Linked DNA regions of Homo sapiens: region 1 is linked to region 2. The links come from fine-mapping of genetic effects on gene expression. A gene starts in region 2. The other region holds a variant in brackets. All regions are shown on one strand. Distances are from middle to middle.

Region 1 (2,914 bases), 5.3 kb after region 2:
GACTGAATCAGAATGTTTCAGGGTAAGTTCCAGGAAGCCATATTATTAAAATTCTCCTCCAGGTAATTTTGTTGAGCAGTCAGAATCTCTGATCCCTAGAGGAATGCTGAAGTGGAATTTCTCTAGTGACCTTTCCTCTACATAGTTGAACAGACTCAGAGTCTGGCTCCTGACCATAAGACAGAGAAATCACCAGAGAAGACAGGGCAACCGCAGTCCAACTGAGCTGTAAGCCTGGGACCTGCTCACTCACCTTCAAGAAAGCAGGAGGGGCAGGAGGGATGGGTAAATGTAAGGAAAGAGAAGAATGTACTGGGATGGCGGGGTGGGTTGTACATGCCTAGAGTGGAAGATGCCTCTCTATCTAAATTTTATAAATTGTCCATTTAGAAAGCAGAAGACCAGCTCTCTGGCTTGTTGAAACAAACACTCCTTCTTTCTCAGCCACATCTTGATTACTATGGTCAAGTAGGGATGATTGTGCTGGCCAATTTCAAATGGTAGCCCTGATGAATTATAACAAATAATCTCCACGTGCTTTATACACATGCCCATGTCCCCACCAATTAAGTCTGAGTACTAGGGCAAATTGAAGCAAAGGGTGGTGGGGGGTGATCCTGTTAGCTTGCTGTCCTCAGAAATAGCCTCTCCAAGGTACTCTAAAAAGCAGCGGTTCTGTTGGATCATGCCTGGAAAACAGGTCTCCTTGGAGTTTGAGGGGATTAAAATTTTAGTTCCAGTTAACTTTCTGTCTCTTGGTGAAGACTGTTCCCAGAAATCTAATTGTGAAGTATTTATTTGTTGACAGCTAATGATGAGTCAGCTACTGTGATGCCTTAAACATGAATATGTTTCCAATCTTCCTGGAAAGATGAGATACAGTTATACGTAAAAGTGAATAAACACAAGACTTATTTCCAGACAACACTAGAAGAGATGGTTTTGTGGGTATCTGAAGTTCTATATCCTGAAAGCTTATCTGAGCAGTATGTATTTGAGAGCAAAATACTCTGGGTGCCATATAGACATGTAAGGCATCATCTTTGTCCTCAGGAAGCTTACAATCTGATAGAAAAGACAGGACATATAAGTATATAATATAAAGAAAACAGTATAGGCTAGGCCAGGCGCAGTGGCTCCTGCCTGTAATCCAGCACTTTGGGAGGTTGAGGTGGTGGATCACTTGAGGTTAGGAGTTCAAGACCAGCCTGGCCAACATGGCAAAACCCTGTCTCTACCAAAATACAAAAATTAGCCAGATGTGGTGGCATGTGCCTGTAGTCCCAGCTACTCAGGAGGCTAAGGTGGGAGAATCTCTTGAACCCAGGAGGCAGAGGTTGCAGTGAGCCAAGATCATGCCACTCCAACCACCCTGGGTGACAGGGTAAGACCCTGTCAAAAAAAAAAAAAAAAAAATAGCATAGGCTGGGATAAGTGAGTGATTCAGTGTTAGCTTTAGTGTCAATAGAACTTGCACTGAAATA[T/G]TCAACTTTTTTCCCACAGCCCTGGACAACTTTCAGGAAGACAGTTCTGGTCTGTAGCAATTAACACATGGTCATCCTCAGAAAAAGGGTAAGGAGGATGCCACTTGACCTAACAGAATCTTATACATGCCAATAATGTGAAGGCTTGATGGGTGTTTGTACTTAGTCCTCTCAATTATTTCCCAGAGATACCCATAACTTAAAATGCAGGAACCAAGAGATTTGAGCCTAGACATTTGGATGAAAAGCGATTTCCACCTGGAGAAAGTCACTGCCCTTCTGTGCAGAGGTAGGTGCCCTGATACTTGCCTGACAGCTGGAAAGCGTGGCTCAGAAGAGGTAGGTGGGAGAAGAGGCCACATAGTATCTCCCTGGGCCTCCTGGTGAAAAACTTGTGTGTGATTTTTCAGGCCTGACCACAAACTTGGGGAAAGCTGACCCCTACCCCAGACTTGGGGCACAGCCCATGCGTGGCAGTCTCTGGAGGGAGCTCTCAAGGTCTCAGGTCTCTCTGGCTGGTCGTAGTCATCACATATTTGCATTCCTAGCCCCTGAGCCTTCATTCCTGGGTTTATCAGAAGCCTTGGGGAGAGGTGTTCTTTAGGCGCCTCTGCTGAGGCCTTCTTTGGGTGGGGCAGGGAAGGGAGAGAAATCTTGAAGCCGCTTTTCCCCACAATGACTCAGAATCTAGTACTTCCACTCCTAGCCTTCCCCCTCCCTTGCTCTCGGCCCCAGAGTCCATAAAACTTCCAGAGCCTTTTGTTCAGGGCTCTGTCAGCAGTGAGACCACCCCAACCCGACATTCCTGCTGATCTACTTGACCCTGGGCCCCTGTGTGTTCCATGGGGGAAATGGAACAGGGAGAGTCCACGCTTTCTCTGGTTTCAGATACTTGCTTATACCATTGCAGGACATGACTGAAAGCTTGACTCTTTTGTTTTGGGCTTGTTGCCTTAATTGACTATTGTGACACCTGGCAGCTCAGCGCTCCCTCTCCCAGTTCAACTGAGCTCCTGACAGAGGGACTCCACCTTCAACTTGCCAGGGACAGGCACTCAAAGGACGGGCTTCATTTCTGTTGAAGGCTCTGGCTTCTCCTAATATGTTTCTAATTCATTTCTAGATTCAGATCTCTCTCTACCTCTCCATATCACACATTCACAAACAATAACTGCCTGAGGACCAGGAGAAGCACAGGGCCTGCCTCGTTATTCCTCCCCTGCATGCTGACTCTTCCACTGGGGCTGGGCAGAGTCAGCACATGCAGGAGGGGAATCATGAGCCAGGCCCTGGCCAGATCCAGATTTCTAGACATGAGAACTACCCAAACCCCAGAGACCCAGTTCTTCCATCTACTTTACTGAGGAGGAACCAGAGAGTCTGAAAAGTAAGTGACTTGGCCAAGGTCACCCAACTGGAACCCAGGGCCT
Region 2 (2,914 bases):
TTGGCAGTGAGATCTAACACAGAAAGATCCTGAAGAAATATGCTGACAATGGGGTTTTATCTCTTCAATGCACTGGAGACAAAATCCCTGCTTTTAAAAACAACACTCATACAGAGCCAAGGATGTCCCAGAGTGAACAGTCCTAACCCTTTCTCAGCCTGCCTAAGAGCTCGTTGGTTTCAGAAGGATGAGCCAAGGACTGCTACTTAGAGACTACTGTCTAGGTCAACCCAACTGGCATAAGTAAAGCACCTACTGTTTATAGTAGGAGGCTGCAAGATAACAGGAGATGCAGACTATTGAAGGCTACTGATCTATCTGTGTAGACAGGCAAGAATAAAACAACTGGAGAAGAAATCCAGGATTACACAAAAAGAAGAGCGTGATGGTATGGTAGACTACTCCAGAACAGTGAATTTCCCCTGCATTAAGGATGAGATCCCTATGAATTGGGATCATTCAGGAAGTCTTCTTGGAGAAGAAAAGTTTGAGCATATGGGGAAAAAAAGTTGGATTGGCAAAGAGCTGAGCTGTCAGTAGCTGGGTCCTTAGTAAGTAGGCTGCATGGAGCTGGGAGTTATGCTAAAGGAGTTGTAATTTGGGATGCCTCTAATTAACCATTTTGGGAAAAATATAATAAATCCCTTTGTAGCATCTATAATAAACTGCCCAATATCTATGTGGTGGGGAAAAAGTTTTATTCTACGTTTCACGTGGATGGTGATAACACTAGGTAATCTCAGCATCTTTCTTATTCTCTTGCTAATCCAGGATTCTAAGTAATAATCACTTTGTTCTACAACCTGAATCTAGCCCTTGTACTGTGCAGTTTTTTTCTACACTTATTTTTCCTGTTGTCTGAATCAATCTCCATGGAAGCATAAGTTTTACTGAGTTTCAACCAGCTGTGTCCACCGAGGTAAAGATGGTAAAAATAAAAGGCACAGGGCATATATACCACAGCAGCAGTTACTTCCCACAAGGAACCAGAGATTGGAAGTGAAGCTAAAACATTTTCAGCTACGATAGCATCTCTTTCAAGGTGAGCCATTTCCCCAGGGAGAGTTTCCAGCTCTTAGCAAAGGCAGAACAATAAAACATCAAGGATGTCTTTCTAAGGCTGCAAACAGAATAGCCAATACCTTGAAGCTGATCTGCTTCAGAGTCCTTTAAAAGCCAGGACAGCAACAAAGTGCCCACATTACATTTTCTACAAGCTTGCTAAGCATCTCTTTTCCTAAACCACAAAACCCGAGACATTTCTACAGAACAGGCAGAAAGGGAAGTCCTGGGAGATCAGGGCCCTGTCTCAGCAGGCATCACTCCAGCCTGTCTTTTCCCGAGTGGTTTTCTGCACTTCTCTTCCATCTTTTCCCCTCTGTCCCACACTGGAAGTCACTAGTCTGTGCCCTCCTTACCTCCCATGGTTTCTGCACCTTCATTTCCAAAGGCAAGTGAAAACAGTGCCAGGCTGCGCACATGGGTTACTCCAGGGACTTCTCTTCCCGTTTCCCCTAAAGCATTTGACAGTTAGATCTTGGAACTGAGTCCAGCAGCACTGAGGTCAGAGAGATGGCTAAAGCTAAAAGCAAACTGGATGCTGTTCAGGAGGTTCTCCTTTGTCATTTTTATCTCCAAATAGAAGACCTCTGTTTTCCCAGAAGATTAAATAGTAGAAAAGAAGTAGCCCAAGGTGGGTGACTCTGCAAACAGGTGGGTGAGGTCTCTAGTTGAGTGAGGGGGTGTCTGTGGGTTGTGGGTTCTTCTTATGAGCAGAGCTTGGAGGAATTTGTTCTATTTGTTGTGGTTTTCCCAGGGGGAAGTCGGGGGTGGCTGGGACTCTAATGATCATTATCAGAAGACTTTGGATTAGGCCTCTGAAACTTTAAGATGTGGATCCTCTCGCAATCATGTTAAAATGCAGATCTCCTTTCAATAGGTCTGGGACAGAGCCTGGCTTTTCTATAAAGCTTCTGGTGATGGGATGTCGCTGGTTCTCAGCCACAATTTGAGTAGCAAGAGGTTAGCTTTTCTACTTACTGCCTTCATATCCCCAGTTGGGCTATGTCGTTTTATCAAAACAATGTGGTAAGAGTGAGCGCCAATTACTAGCCTGTTGAATCATCCATTGTTAGAGCTGTTTCTTTGAGGTACATTTAAGAGGCCCCTCCCTGTGGTTCCCCATTGCACAAGAAGCCCATTTGCCAGGCAATACCTTGGGCAAGCAAGCCACTGTGCAAAATTGCATTGGCTCTTCCTGCTGCCAGCCAGGCGGCTGCTGGTTGACGTTGGAGTTGTACAGTTTATGTGATAGTGATGACAGCGCTGGCTCTGAAGGGTACTGAAGATTTTGAAGGGGTACTTCGCTGCAGCAGCTTCACCTCTCACTTTTGTTTACCCACCCCCGAGGCTTGTGGGAGAGAAGGATCAGGCAGAGCTCTGCACGTGCCATGCCAGGGGTGGAGGAATTATATTTTTATTTTTTGCTTTCTCTGCTACAGGACATACCATGCCTTTTACAGATATTTATAGGACAATTTCCCTCCTGAGAGTGCCCAAGCATGGGGGATGGTGAGGAAGATGACTGAAGGAGAAAGCAGGAAAAGGGGGTGTCTGCATGTATGAGGATTGGAAGGTGGGGAAAACCCTTCGTGTTTGGTTCAGCCTTCAAGAAAGAGGAGGGGTTGACTAGATTACAGATGTTAAACCAGGGGTCTGTGGTTCAAACCAGCAACTCTCTGCCCTTGTAAGCTGTATCTGGCTGGTGTGTTAATTTGTCTAGGGTAAGAGCCCCTAGGTTTCAACAGATTGTCCTAGAGTCAATGATACACAAAAGGTTAATCAGCCTCATTTCCAATCAGGATCATCTGCAAGTCCCTCCCAGAGCAGATATTTGGAGCACTAGGCTTCTAGA

What was found. PIP is the estimated chance that this variant, and not a neighbour inherited with it, causes the effect.
Region 1: its variant is fine-mapped to the expression of LINC01303 in whole blood (TOPMed, PIP 0.96).

The regions. Positions count from the first base shown.
Region 1 is chr14:61,563,978-61,566,891 of GRCh38, reverse strand. It overlaps LINC01303 (long intergenic non-protein coding RNA 1303), which reads left to right. Exons shown (of 5, transcript NR_110416.1): 3 at 1,504-1,572; 4 at 1,651-2,914. Among named protein-coding and RNA genes, the nearest start is that of LINC03033, 5.1 kb to the left of the region's middle. The variant T/G (reference allele first, on the strand shown) is at 1,485.
Region 2 is chr14:61,569,265-61,572,178 of GRCh38, reverse strand. LINC01303 (long intergenic non-protein coding RNA 1303) reads left to right here and starts at 1,526. Exons shown (of 5, transcript NR_110416.1): 1 at 1,526-1,693; 2 at 2,502-2,635. LINC03033 (long intergenic non-protein coding RNA 3033) reads right to left here and starts at 1,639. Exons shown (of 3, transcript NR_039985.1): 1 at 1,419-1,639. RefSeq lists a silencer at 2,349-2,541.